Linked DNA regions of Homo sapiens: regions 1 and 3 are each linked to region 2. The links come from fine-mapping of genetic effects on gene expression. A gene starts in region 2. Each other region holds a variant in brackets. All regions are shown on one strand. Distances are between the middles of the regions.

Region 1 (7,960 bases), 24 kb before region 2:
ATGGTGAAACCCTACTAAAAATACAAAAATTCACCTGGCGAGGTGGCAGGCACCTGGAATCCCAGCTACTCGGGAGGCTGAGGCGGTAGAATCACTTGAACCCAGGTGACAGAGGTTGCAGTGATCCAAGATCATGCCACTGCACTCCAGCCTGGGCGATAGAGTGAGACTCTGTCTCAAACAAACAAAACAAAACAAAATTAGCTGGGTGTGGTGGCACATGCCTGTAATCCCAGCTACTCAGGAGGCTGAGGCAGGAGAATCGCTTGAACCCGGGAGGCGGCAGTTGCAATGAGCCGAGATGGCACCATTGCACTCCAACCTGGGCAACAAGAGTGAAACTCAATTAAAAAAAAAATAGAAAAGAAAGAAAACTTGTTTATGTGGGAGGAGTATATATAAAACCAAAATCCAGGCTGTGTTTCCACAGTGCTGGGAAGTGGCCAGAAAAAGGCTTATAGGGGCTATGAAACTCTGGTCTTGACATATAAACTTTGCTCTGACTGGATTTCATAAAATTACAGTGAGGAGGGTAGTCTCTTGTCAGAAAAACTTGTTTCCAAACATTTATGTAATGTCAAGCTCAGTCTCTCTTTTTTTTTTTTTTTTTTTTGAGACGGAGTCTTGCTCTTGTTGCCCAGGCTGGAGTGCAATGGTGTGATCTCAACTCACCGCAACTTCCACCTCCCGGTTTCAAGCTATTCTCCTGCCTCAGCCTCCCGAGTAGCTGGGATTACAGGCACGCGCCACCACGCCCGGCTAATTTTGTATATTCAGTAGAGACAGGGTTTCTCTATGTTGGTCAGGCTGGTCTGGAACTCCTGGCCTCAGGTGATCCACCCGCCTTGGCCTCCCAAAATGCTGAGATTACAGGCGTGAGCCACCCCGCGCACAGCCTAGACTCTAATTTTATAAAACTTTGTTGAATTTTCTAAGTGTCATTTAGGACATATTGTGCTTTTCTGTGGAGCTTATATCTTATCCTCTTATGTGCAACAAAAAGGGGGTCGGAGGTAAATGCTGATGATGTTGTTTAGTTTTATTTCCTTTTGATCTGGCATGAGTAAATTGCTCTGTTTCCTTAAGCTTGGGTCTGTTACAGAGCTTTGTGCCTTATAGGGTGCTCAGTGTGTGTTGACAAAGGGAATAAGAACTGTCAGTGCCATAAAGAACCAAAGATTCTGGCTACTTTGTCTTCTTCCTTTCTCTCCCACTATGCCTACACTTCCTCTGCCCAGACACTTTTGGAAAGTGTTTAACTGCTGGGTTTTCTTTTTCTTTTTCTTTTTTTTTTTGAGACGGAGTTTCACTCTTGTTGCCCAGGCTGGAGTGCAATGGCGTGATCTTGGCTCACCGCAACCTCTACCTCCTGGGTTCAAGTGATTCTCCTGCCTCAGCCTCCCGAGTAGCTGGGACTACAGGCATGCGCCACAATGCCTGGCTAATTTTGTATTTTTAGTAGAGATGGGGTTTCTCCATGTTAGTCGGGCTGGTCTTGAACTCCTGACCTCAGGTGATCCACCTGTCTCGACCTCCCAAAGTGCTGGGATTATAGGCGTGAGCCACTGCGCCTGACCACCTACCTGCTGGGTTTTCTTTGTATGTCAGCATGGAGTTTTTCCCAAAGAAAGGGAATATGGATGGAGAGAGAGAGGTTATGAACAGGTTATGTTACAGAGGTTATTGCCTTTGAAACTGGGCCCTCATCATTCTAGACTTGCTTGCTTTGTTATAAATTAGAAGAAACCAGAGGGAGATGTGCCAAGTAAACATTCGAATGACTGTTTAGAATATGGTTTTCTTAATTAGCAGTCATGGGGAAAACATGCATTTTTAATTTGGAAAAAACCTGACAGTTAACATGGTTCTGTTTACCTTGATTAGTGAAGTAATTTGCTGCAGTGTTACAGAGGAGCAGAATCACTTGGGTCTCAAAATAGACTGAAAATTTAACTCCCCAAACCAAATTTAACAAACAGAATTGGTTATTAGAGATTTATAGGCAAAAATATCAGTTTGGAAATTAACCTTGGCTACTGGCCACCTTAGCTAGGTTTTCTCCACAGATCTGTTTTCTCCACAGATCTGAGTACTTAACACTTCCCAGATGATTGGAGAATATTCTGGGCTGTTGGGGATGACAGGAAAATGTGAGGGGGAGTAGCCTAGGTAAGGGTGATGATGAAATTGTTCTATCTGCTGTCAAATAATCTTTTCCTGTTTGCAATGTTTTTATTTTTTCTGAGTCCCTTTGGGAACCAGGTGCTAACAAGAAGCTGTTATGTGTGGGATTTCGGAGCCTTACTTTAACGATAGAGGAACCAAGTATCATTTTAGATATCTTTTATTTATGTTCTCGGTGCATATGTTGACTTTAATCCCTCTTCCCCCACACCTCGCCCATTAAGGGGAAGGAGGTTAACTCTGCAGATGATATTCAGGCCCAACCAGCTCACTCTCTGGGGTGGCTACTGACTAAAGGCAGAGAATGTCCATCCAACATGCCCTTCTGACTATACAGTCACCACTTTTTTGGGGGAATTCTTTAGCAGATCTTATTGTTCTTTCTGCAGAAGCTATCATTCCTACCTCCCCAACCCCCAAAATCTCTAATACAGGCCAAGTCATTTTTTATGATGGGTCTCTGAGATAGGGCAGTTTGTTAGAGGAGAGGCTAGGGTAGAGAGGGAGAGAATGGAGGTATCTGAAAATAAGTAAGAAAAAGGCATTGATTTTTATTTACTCGGAACGGTCCTCTTGGCATCCCAGATAAGGGAAATAGGATTTGATCTCCAATTGTATTGCCATGGAGAGAATGGCAGGTGAGGATGCTTTGAAGTAGTTAGAAATTAAATATTGAATACATTAATGGCAATACCATTTCATGACTTTGCATATCTTTCTGGATTAGTCATGGAAGTTGGGGAAATATTGCTTAGATCTTCTGGGTTAGAGGATTCCAACTGTTTATTGGCAAGGTTGGATTATTAAGAATCAAATAGCAGACAAAAATGGCTGGGCACGGTGGCTCACGCCTGTAATCCCAGCACTTTGAGAGGCTGAGGTGGGTAGATCACTTGAGGTGAGGAGTTCGAGACCAGCCTGGCCGACATGGCAAAACCCTGTCTCTACCAAAATACAAAAATTAGTTGGGCATGATGGCATACGCCTGTAGTCCCAGCTACTCTGGAGGCTGAAACAGGAGAATTGCTTGAACCCAAAAGGTGGAGTTTACAGTGAGCTGAGATTGTGCCACTGCACTCCAGCCTGGGCAATAGAGCGAGACTCTGTCTCAAAAAAAAAAAAAAAAGAAGGAAAGAAAGAAAAAACAGACAAATGGATCAGAATTGGTGCTTGAGCAAGAGAAACTTCGAGCTTAGGATGGTTGTCTACTTTAAAATAAAGCTGCTGGCCGGGCACAGTGGCTCACGCCTGTAACCTCAGCACTTTGGGAGGCCAAGGCAGGTGGATCACGAGGTCAGGAGATTGAGACCATCCTGGCTAACACAGTGAAACCCTGGCCCTACTAAAAATACAAAAAATTAGCCGGGCGTGGTGGTGGGTGCCTGTAGTCCCAGCTACTCGGGAGGCTGAGGCAGGAGAATGACGTGAACCCAGGAGGCAGAGCTTGCAGTGAGCTGAGATCGCCCCACTGCAACAGATCGCCTGGGCAACAGAATGAGACTCGGTCTCAAAAAATAAAATAAAATAAAATAAAATAAAATAAGTAAAGCTGCTGGCCAGACATGGTGGCTCACGCCTGTAATCCCAGCACTTTGGGAGGCCGAGATGGGAGGATCACTTGAGGCCAGGCCAGCGTGGTGAAACTCAGTCTCTACTAAAAATACAAAAATTAGCCGGGGGTGGTGGCGCATCATCATACTGGTGAGAAAAAAAAAAAAAAAAAAGAGGCCGGGCGCGGTGGCTCACAAAAAAAAAAAAAAGAAAGAAAAAGGAAAAAAAGAAATATCAGTTTGAGAAATGATTTTTTTTTCTTTTTTCTTTTCTTTTTTTTTTTTTAAACAGAGTCTCTCTCTGTCACCCAGGCTGGAGCGCAGTGGCATGATCTTGGCTCATTGCAACCTCTGTCTCCCGGGTTCAAGCGATTCTTCTGCCTCAGCCTCTGAAGTAGCTGGGATTACAGGCACGCGCTAATTTTTGTATTTTTAGTACAGACGGGATTTCACCATATTGGCCAGGCTGGTCTCGAACTCCTGACCTCGTGATCCACCCTCCTTGGCCTCCCAAAGTGCTGGGATTACAGGTGTGAGCCACCACGCCCAGCCTCTTTTTTTTTTTTTTTTTCTCACCAGTATGATGATGACCATTTTAAGAAAGCTTGTGTGGCTCTCTCCTATCATTACAGACCTCCAGAGCTGGAAAATTTGATGCATTTACTGAACTCTTCCTGAAAGTTTAATATGGAGTGGGAATCAGTTTTTGTCCTAATTTATTAGAGAAGGCTTCCTCTTCTCTACTCCTTGTGCAAACCCATCTCTGGATAGCTAGAAAAGGAACTTCAGAATGGACTATATGTGATGACCACCTGTATGCACTCTAGGCTCTTATCTGTCTCTATTTTATGTGGTGACTATATCTCAGAAGTACTACCCCTTCTGAGTAGTACTATTATTTCCTATGCCAATTTTTTTTAAGTCTCTGATGCTGCCCTTTTTAAATTTTTGTCTTATTTTTTAGCCTCTTTAGTATTAGGGGGTGAGGTGACATTCCTAGACTCTACAGTAGCAGTTTGGCATGTTAGTGACAGGAAATTGTGATTCCCTATCTCCCCCTCCTCCTACCTTTTCTGCTTTTGTGATTCCATTGTTCCTATCTCATTGAGGCTTTCCCAGGCATTCGAA[TTTAG/T]TTAGTAGGTCATTTCTAATCTCTGGGCCTTGTCTTTTCTCTCTCCGTTCCCCTCCTTCCCTACCACATATTTTTTGTTTATTCTGAGGTGGTTTGTTTCTGAAAGTTAATCTAGGTCACCTTCTATATCCTGTGCTTTCTAGTTGGCTTTAGACATCTTGTTCTAGCAACAATGATGGTAGCAGCTCTCTCCCTGACCTTGCCCCATGTGCTGTCCTTCTGTCAAGGCCATTTGTGTGTGTACTGCGGCAGGTGTGTGTGTGGGGGGATGCGCCCAGACTGTTCTCACAATGTCCTCAGTTTTTCAGGTTGTCTGACAGCTTTATGTACAGCGTATTTTTAGAAAAACTTAAATATACTTCTTTATTTAGGGTTTTATTCTGATGAGCAAGTTTGTGTGTATATGTGTGTATGAGCATTTGTATGTATATATACTTATACAGATCTATATTATATATACAGTTTTTGTACTATCATTTAAAATAAAAATGTTTCTCAATAAAATGTCAAAGCCGACCATTTCAGGGTGTCATTGAATTTGTTTTCATCTCCTGGGCAAAATTTGTATCTATTCTCTTTTTTTTTTTTTTTTTTGAGACGGAGTCTCGCTCTGTCGCCCAGGCTGGAGTGCAGTGGCGGGATCTCGGCTCACTGCAAGCTCCGCCTCCCGGGTTCACGCCATTCTCCTGCGTCAGCCTCCCAAGTAGCTGGGACTACAGGCGCCCGCCACTACGTCCGGCTAATTTTTTTGTATTTTTAGTAGAGACGGGGTTTCACCGTTTTAGCCGGGATGGTCTCGATCTCCTGACCTCGTGATCCGCCCGCCTCGGCCTCCCAAAGTGCTGGGATTACAGGCGTGAGCCACCGAGCCCGGCCAAATTTGTATCTATTCTCTAATGACAGGTGAACCACAGAGCTCATTTTCCCTGTCCAACTGAGCTAACTGAAGGGGGAGGGGTATAGATCTACTAACCCATGCATGGCCATTGCCTTTTCCTTATCCACCGCTCTCAGCCTGGTATTCTTGACAGGCAGAGCAAGTTGAGGTAAGAAATGAAATGAGAATGAGGAGAGCTTTTGACCAGCTTGTTAAATGTACATTTTCCTTCTTTCTCTCATTCCCCACTCCCTTCCCTAAAAGCAAACAACCAAGGGAGGAGAAAAGTAGCTGAAGAAAATGATTATGTGCCTTGTGTGGGAGTAAAGTCAATACTGAGACGTATGGGGAAAAACATCAGACTCAGGAGTGCTTGGAAAGAGTAGATTTACTTTGCCAGCTTCTCAGCTATTCTTGGTTAATAGGGTGCTTGCTGCTATCTTAGTCCAAAATCAGCACACATTTATATTTAAAAATAGGAGGATCAGTCTGATAGTAGCACAATCCCCATTGATAGCCGGGGTGAACAGACCAATTTGACTAGCAAGATGGGTATCCTATCTAGTGTATAGAGTTCTGAAAAGCTGTTTTGTTGGCAAGAAGGATACCTTTCTTTACAAAATTAGCTTTGAGCCTGTCCAAAGCTAAGGACATATAAGCATCTGTGTTCAGCGACTGGAATCTCAAGTAAGTTCTCAAAGTCAATATTTAGGAAATTGGACACCTACCATGTACTAGGGTACATGTAGATAATTTCTTTTTGGTAAATACATATAGTCAGCAAATGCTGTGCACATATTCAAGTAATAGAAAGTAATTCTGGCAGGTACTTTATTAATATATATAGTCTTGGCTGTGCTGACAGAAAAAAAAGCAGGAACTTGTGGAGCCTTAAGAACCAAAGAACTAAAAATCTTGTTGAATTAAATCCTGGTGAGAGAAATCATCAAGATGGGAAAGTTGGAGGGAACTAGAGAGATAGGAACCTAGAGTTCTCTGATGGGTGATACTCTTTTTTTTTTTTTTTTTTTTTTGAGACAGAGTCTCACACTGTTGCCCAGGCTGGAGTGCGGTGGCATGATCTTGGCTCACTGCAGCCTCTGCCTCCCAGGTTCAAGTGATTCTCCTGCCTCAGCTTCCCTATTAGCTGGGATTACAGGCATGCACCACTACACTCAGCTAATTTTTGTATTTTTAGTAGAGACGGGGTTTCACCATGTTGGCCAGGCTGGTCTTGAACTCCTGACCTCAGGTGATCCACCCGCACTGGCCTCCCAAAGTGCTGGGCTTACAGGTGTGAGCCACCGTGCCCGGCTGGGTGATAGTCTTAAGTAATGGGAAAAATTATGAACTAGGGCAACTTTCCTAAGACTTCCTTCCTCTGTAAAAAAGAACCCTCTACTCCAAGGAGATCAATAGGTAAAAAATACAGGTGAAGGCTGAAGTGGGAGCAACCCAGTGATAACTACACCTGTGTAAGGCTTGTGCAAGACATTTGATAGGTAATTGAGTAAGTTAAGACTATGGGAGACTTCTGAACAAAAGTGTGGGGTTGCAGTCTGCTCCTATAACCAGTCCTAAAGTTTAAGGGTAGTGCTGTAAAGGAAAGGAAAGTTTGGGAAAGGGCCCAAAATTATAAATAACAATAGCCACCATGTTTTAAGCTTTTGCTACATGTCTGGCAATGTGCTAGGTACTCTGCATATACATATAAATACCCATCTTGTAAGGTGAGTATTATCCTCATCATATAGTTGTAAAAATAGGTTGACTTTGCAGAGTCACACACTTGTAAAAATTGTCCTTTTTTTTTTTTCTTTTTAAAGACAGGGTCTCACTCTTGCCCAGGCTGGAGTGCAGTGGCATGATCTTGGCTCACTGCAGCCTCGACCTTCGACCTCCAGGTCTCAAGCAATCCTCCACCTCAGCCTACTGAGAAGCTGGGACTACAGGTGCACACCACCATGCCTGGCTAATTTTTGTATTTTTGGTAGAGACAGGGTTTCACCATGTTGCCCAGGCTGGTCTTGAACTCCTGAGCTCAAGGGATCCACCTGCCTTACCTTCCCAAACTGTTGGAATTATAGGCGTGAGCCATGGCACCCTGGCTAAAATTGTTCTTTCTAAAACTACAGTTTCTACATTGAGTTAATTAGTGTACTTTCCTCTGTGATTTCCCTTTTGTCAGAATGCTATTTTATTCACTAGCCTTGGGCA
Region 2 (7,531 bases):
TGGCTTTATGCCCAGAGATGCAGGGGAAGGGGATGGCCCCTTTCTAGAAACTGCTAGAACTACAGGGCTAGCCTTGGCAAAGGGGGTCACTGGGAGAGTTTGTGGGGCATGGCGACCACTCCCATGTTAAGGCCCTCAGAATCCAACAGCCTTCTTAGCAAAAGCGCCTTAGCTAGGGACAATAGAGGCTAATTTGCATCTCATTTACATGCTCTTCATTTCCAGGCAAAATGATCTGATAGCAAGCACCCTCAACCCTTTCCTTCCTCCCTGAGAGAGCAGGCTGTGCCTCCCTTCCACTCAGTCTACACACACACACACTCACACCCCACTTTAGGCTGGATTAGTCCAGCCTCTACAAACACTTGGCTGGCCTTTGCATTGGCCTTCTAGACTCAACTATGATACACCTTTAAGAGGGCTTCTTGTAGCTGTTTCTGGGAAGCAGCATCTGGTCAGCTCCTCAACTCCTGGCCTGGAGAAAAGATCACTCTGCCCTGGAAGAATCCGAGCTGCTTCACACACCCCATCTGAAGCACATGGGAGAGACCTGGCCGACTCTCCCCTTTCCAGATCCTCCCGTTGCTGGGAAGAGGAAACAGCCCTTCTCTCTCCTGGCCCCGAAGCCACCTCTGGGGAATGGCTGGGGTCACAGCCAGAGTCTAGGAGAGCTGTGGAAGGGATGGAGAAGGGGAGACTGGGCTGGGGACAATAGCAGGAAGCCTTTGGGCTGGTCGCCCGCCCCAGTCCACCTTCCTCAGAGGGAGCAGGGTCGCGCCAAGGAGCCTGTGGAACCGGAGCTTTCCTTTCTCCAAGCCATTTCCCCCACTCTTAGCTCTTAGCCCCACACTCAGCACCTACCCTCCTTCCCACCCAACCCCCAACCAGGACAATCCAGGTGTCTAAAGCCTCGAAAAGAGGTGGGCCTAGGGCCAGGGGCTCGACCTGTCTCCCCCTCACCGGATCCGGGGCTCCGAGGAGGGGCCGGTAGCAGAGTCTGGGCCGGGACCGGGTCCCAGAGCCACGTTAGCGAGAGGAGGGGCTGGAGGGGCCTGCAGGCGCAGACGAAGAGGGGATAGGAGCGGGGGTTGGGGAGCGGAGGCGGGTCTCCCAGGCCAGGGAAACAGGGCCAGAGGCTGAGAACCGACGAGGGCGGGCCTGAGGCCGGCGCTCAGTGGGGACCGTGGGCTCAGGAGGCAGTTGCCAGCTCGGATGTCCTCCTTGGGAGACCTCAGTCTAACAAAGCCCCGGGCCGAGCGGGCTGAAGGAAGGAGATAGGCGCTGGGACCGATGTTGCTCGAGGGCCCCATTCGCCGCCTCTTTGCACGAGCCAACCCTTCAGAGGGTGCTCAGATTCCGGCTTGCACAAGGACAGAGGAGCACCCGTGACACAAAGTCCGGAACGATGCGTCCCTCTTCCCATCCCTTCAGGGGCGTCAGGAGGGTCTAGTTCTCCGTGGGTCTCGGAGCCCTAGTTTCCTTGCTGGGAAAGCAAGGGGCCAGGTTTTCCACGCTCTCTACGGAGCGCGCCTCAAATAATCCCTTTTCGCGCTTCCCAGTCCAGCGGGATGCGACTCGACGAAAGCCCAATTGAACGAGGTGCCCAGACTCTGCTCTCACCAGTACAGTTACGGGGCTCGGCCACTGTCCCTCCTTCCTCCCTGCACCCCAATTTCGTTGACCCTCTCCGTCAGCCAGGCACACCGGGCGCCGACACCTCCCTGGTCCCCTAGCGCTTCAGAAGCTTGCCCCCCGCCGGCCGCGCCCTCCTGCTCCCTCCCCGCCTCCCCGCAGCCCCTTCCCTGCCCGGGGTACTTGCTCCAGGATTCGGGTCAGCGGGATCGAGATCGCCGCGGGCGGCCAGCGGCCACGCGCTGCGCTGAGTTCGCAATCCGTGGTTGTGCTCAGGCGAGATGCGATGAGCGTCCGAATTGGATGGTGCTTGAATTTGGGTTCCAGGGCGCTGTCGGGAGAGCCCTGGGTCCAAGTCCAGCCGCGGATCCGCGGAGGAAAACAATGCGACCGCCCGGGGCTCTGGGCTCGGCCCCAGTGGCCCCGCCCGCCTCCCAGCCGGGCCCACCTCCTGCCCGCCTTTGGGTCGCCGCGACTAATCCCGCCCTCGGAGGGCGGCTAGACACCGCCTTCTCGTCACCTCTCCGCCAATAGTGCTGCCCGGGGAGGGGCGCCAGGAGCACCGTCCACCCAGAGGGCCAGGCCGGGAGGCTGAACTGGAGACCAGAGACAGACGCGAGATGGAGAGACCCACGGACAGTCGCCGACACCGGGCAGAGGAAGAAATACATACAGAAGCAGAGACAGGCTGGCACAGGAGAGGCTCTGGGGAGAAATTTCCCAAGAGAGGAAGAGGAGCTGGGAGGAGAAACAGACAGGAAACCTGGGAGCCTCGCGGGGCTGGGCTGGGCTGTCAGAGCCTGCGCGATCCGTCCTCCCTTCCCCTCCTATACGGCTTGGGCGACCTTGCTCCCGAGGGCGCATCCCGCATCTCCCTGACTCTGCCCCCAACTCTCTGTTGCTCCTCTCTATGCGTTGTCCCTCTGTCTCCTTATTTCTCCCCGTAGGCCTCCTCTGGTTCGTCCTGACCCGGATAAGGAGGCCTAGCATGCGCGTGGGGGCTGGAGGCCTGGGAAAGGAAAGGAAGGTGTCAGCAGGAGGTTTCCCTTGTTTCCATGATCTCCTCCCCTCCCACCTCTACAAAGCAGCATGAGTTTGGGCCACTATGGCAAGAACTAGCTAGCAGTCAGGCTGTTGGGTAATGGAAGAGGGCAGGTGAGAGAGGCTGAAGCCAAAACAGATGTGGAAATCAAGACTAACTGACTCAGAGAAAGGCACAAAGAGTAGCAACGCTAAGACTTGATAAAGTAACCCACACAGCCTTCCTGCCCCACAGACATACGTCCCACCTTTCCTCAGAGGACCGTGACATCCCTCCAAACAGCAAAACTGCCCCTTCTCCCTCCCCACCCTTCATAAAGCCCCTGGGAATGTCAGTGAGGAGGAAGAATAAACTACTACAGACAGGATTGCTTGGTACCTTGGTATTGCCTGGTAGGATTCTTCTCTATGTGGGGCTGGGACAAAAGACATTCTCAAAATTCTCCAGGAAAGTGGGTGGCCTGGGAGACACTGGCATTCTCAGATAGTTTTATCTGACTGAACACTTCTACCCACATCTTGGACTCTGGACTAGAGGAAAGGAGGGGGAAGGGGTTTGCCACTTTAGGCCAGCCTTAACTGGACTGTGATCAGGGAGGGGAGTATCAACAACTAGGCTAAGCCCCACAGCGAGTACACAAGAGACCTAAACATACACACACATGTGCACACGCACATACAGAGAAAGAGAGAGACAGAGAGACAGATTTAAGGCCAGGTGAACCAGTAAGATGAACAGTAACTCAGTAAAGTCAGATCTAAAAAAAATAGAAGAAGATAAACAGGGACAATATCTACACAGAATTAACGGCCGAGGGATCTTGGGTCCAAGGCAATTCAACAAACTGTCAGACAGTTGGGGTTGTTTTAAAGGCTGGAAAGAAATTTTCAGAGAAAGACACCTCAAAATACAGAGGCACTGAGAGGTTAAAAGAAATCTCCTCAGCTCCTAGCACAGGGTTTAGGTACTCAGATACATGCTTATGGAATAGATTAGTGAGTGGGGATTAAGGTGTAATTCATTTAAAGTTTTAGGACCCAGCTCAAATCTCAGTTCAATCCAGTAAGTATTAAACACTTACTTGAGACACAATCTACTACACAATCCACTGTGGGTTGTGGTTCCAGACTTTAAGAAAATGATAATATATTTGAATTAAAATAAGATTTGCACATACTAAACTATTAAAAAGTCTAAACTATTAAAAAGACAGTACTAAATATTAAATATTTAATAGTACTAAACTATTAAAAAGACAACACCAAGTCTCAAAAGAAAAGCTACATTGAACATAAATTTCCAAATGTGCAAAGAAGACAATAAATATTCTCCGAAGACTGCACAGAAAGATGCTGGATACATTTTATCATGAAGGACAGGAAAACTTTGGTGGGAGTTGGCTTGGTGCAAAAGAAGAAAATGTTCCCGAGGGACACAGCTTCAGCAAAAGCTTTTACTTGGTTAGCAAGGAGCCTGCAGCATGGATAAAAAAAAGGTCCTGTGAGGCTGGTGTGTGGGAAAGGCACTAGTTAGGAGCAAGGGGAGGGAAAAGGGGAAGACAAATTACAGAAGGCCTGGAATGACTAGGTGAGCTGGTTAAAATCATCTGACAGGAGTAGGACGTCATTTTAAATTCTTGAAAAAGGGTGCAACTTGTATTTTTTTATTTTTTTAAGCAAGAAGACAGAGACCTACTAGCAAGTAAACAAGGTTTAAAGGTGAGGGGAGAGGGACAATCAGACAAGGGTGATGGGAACAGATTTAGAAAGAAATACATGAATCTGAGAGCTATTTTGAAGGACAAATCAAAATGACTCTCTTGGCTGGGCGAGGTGGCTCACCCCTGTAATCCCAGCACTTTGGGAGGCCGAAGTGGGCAGATCACCTGAGGTCAGGAGTTCTGAGACCAGCCTGGCCAACATGGAGAAACTCCAGCTCTGCTAAAAATACAAAAAAAAATTAGCCGGGTGTGGTGATGGGCACCTGCAATCCCAGCTACTCAGGAGGCTGAGGCAGGGGAATTGCTTGAACTCAGGTGACAGGAGATTGCAGTGAGCCAAGATCGTGCCACTGCACTCCAGCCTGGGTGACACAGAGGGAGACTCTTAAAAAAATAAAAATAAAAATAAAAAACCTCTCTTCCTACTCCCTTAGTGTTTTGAAGAAAATCACACAGTCCTGGCCGGGCGCAGTGACTCAGGCCTGTAATCCTAGCACTTTGGGAGGCTGAGGCGGGTGGATTGCCTGAGCTCAGGAGTTCGAGACCAGCCTGGGCAACAACAGTGAAACCCCGTCTCTACTAAAATAAAAAGAATTAGCCGGGCGTGGCGGTGTGCGCCTGTAGTCCCAACTACTGGGGAGGCTGAGGCAGGAGAATTGCTTGAACCCAGGAGGCGGAGCTTGCAGTGAGCCGAGATCGCACCACTGCACTCCAGCCTGGGCAACAGAGCGAGACTCCATCTCAAAAAAAGGAAATCACACAGTCCCACAGATTGGATTGGAAAAGCACTCTCTTCCAATCCCCAGGGAGATATTTCAAACTTCCTCCTTTTTTTGCAAGTTCCTTTCCTTACCATTTCCTTGTTCATCTCAGGAAAACCCTCATCCGTCTTCAGAGAAAACAGAGATAATAAAGTGAGAATTCCACCAACTTTTTGCTCCCTACAGATATACTTACCTGCATCATGTCTCTCTCATCCTAGTGAATGCCATCCGTATCACCTGTCGAAGGTTCACCTATGACTTTACTGTAAGTTGTATGCAGTCCCTGGTTGTCTATCTTGCTCAACACTGTATCCTTTCCTTGTAGCATAGTGCCTGCACACAGAAAGTATTAACTTAAAAAAAAAATAGAGGCAGAGTCTCATTGTGTTGCCCAGGCTGGTCTTGAACTCCTAGGCTCAAGTGATTCTCCTGCCTCGGCCTCTCGAACTGCTGGGATTACCGGCGTCAGCCACCATTCCCAGTCTTAACCTGTCCTTTTCTACTGATATTTTCCCCTTAGCATATACACATGCTCAAGTAATTCCCATGATTAAAAGGAAAACATTCCAAACTTTCTCTTGATCCTTGTCTGCACCCAGTCATCACTCGATTTCTCTTCCCTTCATAACTAAGCTTCTAGAGTTACCTATACTTGCTATATCCATTTTCATGATTCTCATTCTCAATCATTTTAGTTTTTGTCCCCATCAGTCCACTGAGATTGCTCTCATTAAGGCCACCAACGACCTCCTGGTCACATTCAATGAACAACTCTTCAGTCTTTATCCTTTTGCCCTCTCTGTGCCATTTGACCTGTTGACTCCCCCCTCCTTGAAATGCTTTCTTCTTTTGGCTCCTGAGGTCCCTCTTTCTCTTAACAAAGACTAGGGGCTTAATAAATATGTATTTTTAATGAATGGATAGTTTCACTTCTATTAATATGGCTTTTCTTTTCTTTTCTTTTCTTTTTTTTTTTTTTTTGAGACAGAGACTCACTCTGTCGCCCCAGGCTGGAGTGCAGTAGCATAATCTTGGCTCACTCACTGCAACCTCCACCTCCTGGGTTCAAGCGCTTCTCCATCTCAGCCTCCCGAGTAGCTGGGATTACAGGCGCCCACCACCACGCCCAGCTAATTTTTATATTTTTAGTAGAGACAGGGTTTCGCCATGTTGGCCAGGCTGGTCTCGAACTCCTGACCTCAAGCGATCTGCCCACCTCAGCCTCCAAAGTGTTGGGATTACAGGTGTGAGCCACCACACCCAGCCTAATATGACCTTTCTTAGCCTTCTCTGACCTCTCTAAATGCTGGTGTTCCCTATGGTCATGTCCTTAGCCACCTCTTTCTTCTCTACCCATTCTCATTGGTCAAGATAATCCGACAATGAGAACAGTTACAAAACCAACAGTTACAATAAACTGTTTTGTTTTGTTTTGTTTTGAGATGAGTCTCCCTCTGTCACCTAGGCTAGAGTGCAGTGGCTCACTCGGCTCACTGCAAGTTCCGCCTCCCGGGTTCACACCATTCTCCTGCCTCAGCCTCCAGAGTAGCTGGGACTACAGGCACCTGCCACCATGCCCAGCTAATTTTTTTTTTTTTTTTGTATTTTCAGTAGACACAGGGTTTCACCGTGTTAGCCAGGATGGTCTCGATCTTCTGACCTCATGATCCGCCCGCCTGGGCCTCCCAAAGTGCTGGGATTACAGGTGTGAGCCACTGCGCCCGGCCACAATAAACTGTTTATATGTTGCTTACCATAAAATCTAGGTGTTCAACTCAGGTCTTTCTCCTGAGTTCTAGACTCATGTATACAATTGCTTATTGGATACTTCCATTTGGATTTTTCATGTTTACCACTTAGTCTAAAGACAGGAAGTAGCCAGGCGCAGTGGCTCACACCTATAATCCCAGCACTTTGGGAGGCTAAGGTGGGCAGATCACCTAAGGTTGGGAGTTCAAGACCAGCCTGACCGACATAGAGAAACCCCGTCTCTACTAAAAATACAAAATTAGCCGGGCATGGTGGCGGGCGCCTGTAGTCCCAGCTACTCAGGAGGCTGAGGCAGGAGAATCACTTGAACCCGGGAGGTGGAGGTTGCCATGAGGCAAGATCGCGCCATTGCACTCTGGCCTGAGCAACAAGAGCGAAACTCCATCTTAAAAAAAAAAAAAAAAAGACAGGAAGCTTGTCTTTTATCTTTTTATCCCCAGCACTTAATTGTAATGCCTGGCATACAGTAAGTAGAGGAAGAAATAAATGCATCAAAGATTAAAAACAAACAAACATCCTATGGCTCAGAGGAAAAACAACAACAACAACAAAAAACAAAAACAAAAAAAAAACAAGCCAGGTATGGTGGCTCATTTCTGTAAT
Region 3 (7,960 bases), 71 kb before region 2:
AAGGCCGGCGCGGTGGCTCATCCCCGTAATCCCAGCACTTTGGGAGGCTGAGGCGGGCAGATCACAAGGTCAGGAGTTCAAGACCAGCCTGGCCAACATGGTGAAACCCCGTCTCTAATAAAAATACAAAAATTAGCTGGGCATGGTGGCGTGCATCTGTAGTCCCAGCTACTTGGGAGGCTGAGGCAGGAGAATCACTTGTACCCAGGAGGCAGAGTTTGCAGTGAGCCAAGATCGCGCCACTGTACTCCAGCCTGGTGACAGAGCAAGTCTCTGGCTAAAAAAGAAAGTAAAGAAAAAAAGAATAGCTACTCCATGGGCAGTATTATTATGGTTATTTCTTTTTTTTTTTTTTTTTTTGAGAGTCTTGCTCTGTCGCCCAGGCTGGACTGCAGTGGCGCTATCTCGGCTCGCTGCAAGCTCCGCTTCCTAGTTCATGCCATTCTCCTGCCTCAGCCTCCTGAGTAGCTGGAATTACAGTCACCTGCCACGGCGCCCGGCTAATTTTTTGTATTTTTAGTAGAGACGGGGTTTCACCATGTTAGCCAAGATGGTCTCGATCTCCTGACCTCGTGATTCTCCCGCCTCAGCCTCCCAAAGTGCTAGGATTACAGGCGTGAGCCACCGCGCCCGGCTGGTTATTTCTTGATTGTATGCTAAACATGCTTCCGCTTTTTTTTTTTTTTTTTCCAGACGGAGTCTCGCTCTGTCGCCCAGGCTGGAGTGCAGTGGCGTGATCACGGCTCACTGCAAGCTCCACTTCCTGGGTTCACGCCATTATCCTGCCTCAGCCTCTCGAATAGCTGGGACTGCAGGCCCCCGCCACCATGCCCAGCTAATTTTTTTTTTTTTTTGTATTTTTAGTAGAGACGGGGTTTCACCACGTTAGCCAGGATGGTCTCGATCTCCTGACCTCATGAGCCGCCCTCCTCAGCCTCCCAAAGTGCTGGGATTACAGGCGTGAGCCACCGCACCCAGCAGCCTCCTCTTTTTAGACCATATAGGGTAACTTCCTGACATTGCCATGGCATTTGTAAGCTGCCATGGCATGGCACTGGTGGGAGTGTAGCAGAGAGAACAACCAGAGGTCACTCTTGTCCTCTTGTCGCCATCTTGCTTTTGGTGGGTTTTAGCCAGCTTCTTTACTATGGCCTGTTTTATCAGCAAAGTCTTTATGATCTGTATCTCGTGCTGACCTCCTATCTCATCCTGTAACTAAGAATGCCTTAACTGACTGGGCACAGTGGCTCACACCACTTTGGGAGGCCGAGGTGGGTGGATCACTTGAGGTCAGGAGTTCAAGACCAGCCTGGCCAACATGGTGAAACCCTGTCTCTACTAAAAATACAAAAATAAGCCAGGCAGTAGTGGCACACGCCTGTAATTCCAGCTACTCGGGAGGGTGAGGCAGGAGAATTGCTTGAGCATTAGAGGCAGAGGTTGTGGCGAGCCGAGATCGTGCCACCGCACTCCAGTCTGGGCGACAGAGTGAGACAGTCTCAAAAAACAAAACAAGGGCCAGGCGCAGTGGCTCATGCCTGTAATCCCAGCTCTTTGGGAGGCTGAGGCGGGCAGAGGTCAGGAGATCAAGACCATCCTGGCTAACACGGTGAAACTCCATCTGTACTAAAAATACAAAAAATTGGCCGGGCACGGTGGCTCATGCCTGTAATCCCAGCACTTTGGGAGGCCCAGGAGGGCAGATCACGAGGTCAGGAGATCGAGACCATCCTGGCTAACATGGTGAAACCCCATCTCTACTAAAAATACAAAAAATTAGCCGGGCATGGTGGCGGGCGCCTGTAGTCCCAGCTACTCGGGAGGCCGAGGCAGGAGAATGGCGTGAACCCAAGAGGCGGAGCTTGCAGTGAGCCGAGATTGTGCCACTGCACTCTAGCCTGGGCGACAGAGCGAGACTTTGTCTCAAAAAAAAAAAAAAAAAAAAAAAAAAATTTAGCCAGGTGGGAGACTGGGACAGGAGAATCGCTACAACCTGGGAGGCGGAAGTTGCAGCGAGCTGAGACTGCACCACTGGACTCCAGCCTAGGCAACAGAGCGAGACTTCATCTCAAAAAAACCCCCCCCAAAAAAACCCAAAAAAACACAAAACAAAACAAAAAAAGAATGCCTTAATGGGAATGCAGCCCAGTAGGTCTCAGCCTTATTTCACCCAACTCCTATGCAAGATGGAGTTGCTCTGGTTCAAACACCTCTGACATTTCTCCCATCCCTTTTATTAGAGAACCCTTAATCCTAGGGGTTACAAAGAAATAAAGATCCATCTTCTGTAACTTTTTCAGGGTGAATAGGGGCGATGATATTCCTGCCTGACTCTTAGGGTCTCTTGTATTCAGGGTTCAGAGAGGAGCTCAGTCAGAAAGCATCAGTATGGTGAGAGCTATTCATAACTCCAACAAAAGGTGATATCTGGAAGATTAAAAGGTGTTCAGTTTAAGAAAACATTCAGTAAGCTTATCCTGCATTCCTACACAAAGAGTACAACAGCAATATACTCCTCAACAGTAAAGCAAAATAAGCAAAACTATCCCAAGTAAATTAAATAAGAAGGTTTTCCATGAACTGGGCAACTGTTGGAACCAAGCTGATTTGGGGTTACTAGCTGATTCCAGTATGTGCCCAGAATTAGAATATTGATCCAGATTTTTACATTACCCATTCCTTTTGTTTCTTGTGAGCAGCAGCCAGAGATCACTGGTTGGTTCACAGGAATAAGCAGAGTTAATCTAAGTTGCAGAAAAAAACTTAAAAACAACTGATGAGACTAGAATTTTTATTTTTTTTATTTTTTGAGACAGAGTCTTATTCAGTCACCTAGGCTGGAGTGCAGTGGCACAATCTTGGTTCACTGCAAGCTCTGCCTCCTGGGTTCAAGCAATTCTCCTGCATCAGCCTCCGGAGTAGCTGGGATTACAGGCATATGCCACCACGTCCGGCTAATTTTTGTATTTTTAGTAGAAACGGGCTTTCACCATGTTGGCCAGGCTGGTCTCGAACACCTGACCTCAGGTGATCCACCCGCCTCAGCCTCCCAAAGTGCTGGGATTACAGGTGTGAGCCACTGTGCCTTGCCAGTCTCCCATTTTTACTAAAGGCAAATCATGGTAAAATAGATTGGCTTTATTAAACTTGGTCTGATTTTTTTTTTTTTTTTTGAGATGGAGTCTCACTCTGTCGCCCAGGCTGGAGTGCAGTGGCGCAATCTCGGCTCACTGCAAGCTCCACCTCCTGGGTTCATGCCATTCTCCTGCCTCAGCCTCCCGAGTAGCTGGGACTACAGGTGCCTGCCACCACACCCGGCTAATTTTTTGTATTTTTAGTAGAGACGGGGTTTCACTGTGTTAGCCAGGATGGTCTCAATCTCCTGACCTCGTGATCCGCCCTCCTGGGCCTCCCAAAGTGCTGGGATTACACTTGGTCTGATTATTTGTATAAAGTGCAGCAAGAATAATGATTTTTCACATAGGCTTTTTAAATTGGCTTTGAAAGAACTTTGTTCCGTAAAAGGAATCTCACATAAGACTTACAAAGCCAATTAAAGCCCGTTGGGAAAACTGGCCTCATACCTTGTCTAAAGTCCCTGTACAGGGTTCCTGATCTGTGGTAAGTAAAGAGTGTCACTTTCTGACTTTCTGACAGGCCCAGGAGCCCCACATTATCCTGGGACCTCAGGAGGGGAGGAATTTATCCAACTCATAGGTTTTTTTTTTTTTTTTTTTGAGATGGAGTCTCACTCTCTCACCAGGCTGGAGTGCAGTGGCGCAATCTCGGCTCACTGCAGCCTCTACCTCCCGGATTCAAGTGATTCTTCTGCCTCAGCCTCCTGAGTAGCTGGGACTACAGGCATGCAACACCACGCCCAGCTAATTTTTGTATTTTTAGTAGACACAGGGTTTCACCATGTTGGCCAGAATGGTCTTGTTCTCTTGACCTTGTGATCCGCCG[C/T]GCCCGGCCACTCATAGGTATTTGAGGGTATAAACCCATGGCTGGGCTCAGCTTTAAAAAAAAAAGAGAGGCCAGGCGCAGTGGCTCACGCCTGTAATCCCAGCACTTTGGGAAACCGAGGCAGGTGGATCACAAGGTCAGGAGTTCAAGACCAGCCTGACCAACATGGTGAAACCCTGTCTCTACTAAAAATACAAAAATTAGCCGGGCATGGTGGCACGTGCCACCTAATCCTAGCTATTCAGAAGGCTGAGACAGGAGAATCGCTTGAACCCAGGAGGCTGAGGGTGCAGTGAGCCAAGATCACACCATTGCACTCCAGCCTGGGCAACAGAGCAAGACTCAGTCTCAAAAAATAATAATTTTCTTTAGAATAATAAAAATAAAGGCCGGGCACGGTGGCTCACGCCTGTAATCCCAGCACTTTGGGAGGCTGAGGCAGGTGGATCCCCTGAAGTCAGGAGTTCAAGCCTCGCCTGACCAACATGGTGAAATCCTGTCTCTACTAAAAATACAAAATTATCCAGTTGTGGTGGCACGAGCCTGTAGTCCGAGCTACTCAGGAGGCTGAGACAGGAGAATTGCTTGAACCTGAGAGGTGGAGGCTGCAGTGAGCCGAGATCACACCACTGCACTCCAGCCTGGGTGAGACAGAGTGAGACTTCAACTCGAAAAAAAAAAAAAAAGAGTAAGAATAAAAATTCATTTTACACTGGGCGCGGTGGCTCACGCCTGTAATCCCAGCACTTTGGGAGGCCAAGGCGGGCGGATCACGAGTTCAGGAGATCGAGCCCATCCTGGCTAACACGGTGAAACCGTGCTTCTACTAAAAATCCAAAAAATTAGCCGGGCATGGTGGCGGGTGCCTGTAGTCCCAGCCACTCAGGAGGCTGAGGCAGGAGAATGGCATGAATCCGGGAGACGGAGCTTGCAGTGAGCCGAGATCGCGCCACTGCACTCTAGCCTGGGCCACAGAGCAAGACTCCGTCTCAAAAAAAAAATAGAAAAAAAAATTCATTTTACTTTTTCTTTTTTTGTTTTTGTTTGTTTGTTTGTTTGAGACAGTCTCGCTCTGTTACCCAGGCTGGAGGGCAGTGGCACAATCTTGGCTCACTGCAACCTCTGCCTCCCAGGTTCAAGTGATTCTCCTGCCTCAGCCTCCTGAGTAGCTGGGAGTACAGGCGTGCACCACCACACCTGGCTAATTTTTGTATTTTTAGTACAGGCGGGGTAGTAAAATTTTGTATTTTAGTAGGGGCGGGATTTCACCATGTTGGCCAGGCTGGTCTCCAACTCCTGCCCTCAAGTGACCCGCCTGCCTCTGCCTCCCAAAGTGCTGGGATTACAGTCGTGAGCCACTGTGCCTGGCTACATTTTACTTTTTCTTAAGATGGATGCTTCAGGTTAACTCAAAAGAGTAACTGAGGATAGGAGGAGAAAATAGCCTTGAAGAACGCATTTCTATATCTTTCTTATATTAGGAGGTAAATATAGCACCCTATTTACATTCTAATCCCAAAGTTTAATTATATCTCTATATAGTAAGAAATAGGGCTTTAAAATCATGGCTTGTTGAAAGAATGGGATGACAGATTTGGGTTGGTTGTCATTTAGTAGTATTGATATGTGACAGAAAGATGATTAAAGAAGAGTGATAGGCCAGGTGCAGTGGCTCACGCCTGTAATCCCAGCACTTTGGGAGGCTGAGGCTGGCGGGTTACTTGAGGTCAGGGGTTCAAGACCAGCCTGGCCTAACCTGGTGAAACACTGCCTCTACTAAAAATGCATAAATTAGCCAGGCGTGGTAGTAGGTGCCTGTAATCCCAGCTACTCAGGAGGCGAGGCAAGAGAATCGCTTGAATCCAGGAGGCAGAGGTTGCAGTGAGCCATGATTATGCCACTGCACTCCAGCCTGGGAAACAGAGTGAGACCCTGTCTCAGTAAATAAATATATAAATACGATAAATGTAGATATGAAAGCAGACTACAGTATAAAACACTGCTCAGAAACATTTTGCGACCGGGCGCAGTGGCTCAGGCCTGTATCCCAGCACTTTGGGAGGCCGAGGCAGCGAATCACCTGAGGTCAGGAGTTCGAGGGGCTGACCAACATGGTGAAACCCTGTCTGTACTAAGAATACAAAATTAGCTGGGCATGGTGACACATGCCTGTAATACCAGCTACTCGGGAGGCTGAGGCAGGAGAATCGCTTGAACCTAGGAGGCGGAGATTGCAGTGAGCTGAGATTGCACCATTGCACTCTAGCCTGCGTAACGAGCAAAACTCTGTCACACACACACACAAAATAATAACAATAATAATAATAAAACATTGCCGGGCACAGTGGCTCATGCCTGTAATCCCAGCACTTTGGGAGGCTGAGGCTGGTGGATCGCGAGGTCAGGAGTTCAAGACCAGCCTGGCCAAGGTGGTGAAACCCCATCTCTACTAAAAATACAAAAATTAGCCAAGCGTGGTGGCACACGCCTGTATTCCTAGCTACTTGGGAGGCTGAGGTAGGAGAATCGCTTGAACTTTGGAGGCAGAGGTTGCGGTGAGCCAAGATCATGCCATTGCACTCCAGCCTGGGCAACAAGAGCCAAACTCCATCTCAAAAAAAAAAAAAAAAAAAAAAAAAAAAACAATAATTAGCTGGGTATGGTGGTGGGCAGGCCAAGCTGGGCAAATCACCTGAGGTCAGGAGTTCAAGACCAGCCTGACAAACATGGAGAAACCCTGTCTCTACTAAAAATACAATATTAGCTGGGCATGGTGGCACATGCCTGTAATCCCAGGTACTCGGGAGGCTGAGGCAGGAGAATCGCTTCAACCCAGGAGGCAGAGGTTGCAGTGAACTGAGATCATTCCACTGCACTCCAGCCTGGGCAACAAGAGCAAAACTCCATCTCTAAATAAATAAATAAATAAATAAATAAATAAATAAATAAAATAAAAAGGGTTTAGGCCAGGTACAGTGGCTCACGCCTGTAATCCCATCACTTTGGGAGGCCAAGACAAGCAGATCACTTGAGGTCAGGAGTTCAAGACCAGCCTGGCCAAGATGGTGAAACCCCATCTCTACTAAAAATACAAGTATTAGCTGGGCATGGTGGCGTGGCACCTCTAATCCCAGCTACTCGGGAGACTGAAACACAAGAATCACTTGAACCCAGGAGGTGGAGGTTGGAGGTTGCAGTGAGCCGAGATTGCGCCACTGCACTCCAGCCTGGGTAATAGAGGAAGACTATGTCTCACAAAAAAAAAATAAAAAAGAAAGGTTTTTTTTTTGAGACGGAGTCTCGCTCTGTCCCCCAGGCTGGAGTGCAGTGGCTCAATCTCGGCTCACTGCAACCTCTGCCTCCCGGGTTCACGCCATTCTCTTGCCTCAGCCTCCCGAGTAGCTGGGACTACACGGGCCCACCACCACGCCCAGCTAATTTTTTTGTATTTTTAGTAGTGACGGGGTTTCACCATGTTAGCCAGGATGGTCTCGGTCTCCTGACTTCGTCATCCGCCCGTCTCGGCCTCCCAAAGTGCTGGGATTACAGGCATGAGCCACCACACCCGGCCAACATAAAACATTTTTATAAAAAATATATCTTCAGGCCTGGTGTGGTGGCTCATGCCTATAATCCCAGCACTTTGGGAGGCTGAGGCCAGCGGATCACTTGAGTTCAGGAGTTTGAGACCAGCCTGGACAACATGGTGAAACCCCGTCTCTACTAAACATAGAAAAATTAGCCAGGCATGGTGGTGCACACCTGTAATGCCAGCTACTTGGGAGGCTGAGGCACAAGAATCACTTAAACACTGGAGGCGGAGGTTGCAGTGAACCGAGATTGTGTCACTGCCCTCCAACCTGGGCAACAGAGCAGCGAAACCCTGTCTCAACCCCAAAAAAGAAACAAAGAAACAAACCGTATATATATATCTTCAGAGTTAAAAAATGGTGAGAACAAGAGCATTGTTTTATATATTTTTTCAACTCTCTTTAAC

Alleles and levels. Alleles are on the strand shown, and positions count from the first base shown. SD is a standard deviation of normalised expression in the study named. Not every link is listed here.
For the expression in prefrontal cortex of the gene that starts at base 2,018 in region 2, allele T in region 3 goes with a higher level than allele C (large effect, 1.4 SD a copy in GTEx).

What was found. PIP is the estimated chance that this variant, and not a neighbour inherited with it, causes the effect.
Region 1: its variant is fine-mapped to the expression of SEMA6C in whole blood (TOPMed, PIP 0.98).
Region 3: its variant is fine-mapped to the expression of SEMA6C in prefrontal cortex (GTEx, PIP 0.94).

What each region holds. Positions count from the first base shown.
Region 1 is chr1:151,120,161-151,128,120 of GRCh38, forward strand. GABPB2 (GA binding protein transcription factor subunit beta 2) reads left to right here. Exons shown (of 9, transcript NM_144618.3): 9 at 1-5,382. Among named protein-coding and RNA genes, the nearest start is that of SEMA6C, 22 kb to the right of the region's middle. The variant TTTAG/T (reference allele first, on the strand shown) is at 4,863.
Region 2 is chr1:151,144,614-151,152,144 of GRCh38, forward strand. SEMA6C (semaphorin 6C) reads right to left here and starts at 2,018. Exons shown (of 19, transcript NM_030913.6): 1 at 1,820-2,018. It also overlaps a transcript of LYSMD1 not described here. RefSeq lists silencers at 1,766-2,225, 2,436-2,495.
Region 3 is chr1:151,073,639-151,081,598 of GRCh38, forward strand. The region is part of intron 1 of GABPB2 (GA binding protein transcription factor subunit beta 2); the gene reads left to right. Among named protein-coding and RNA genes, the nearest start is that of GABPB2, 6.9 kb to the left of the region's middle. The variant C/T (reference allele first, on the strand shown) is at 3,964.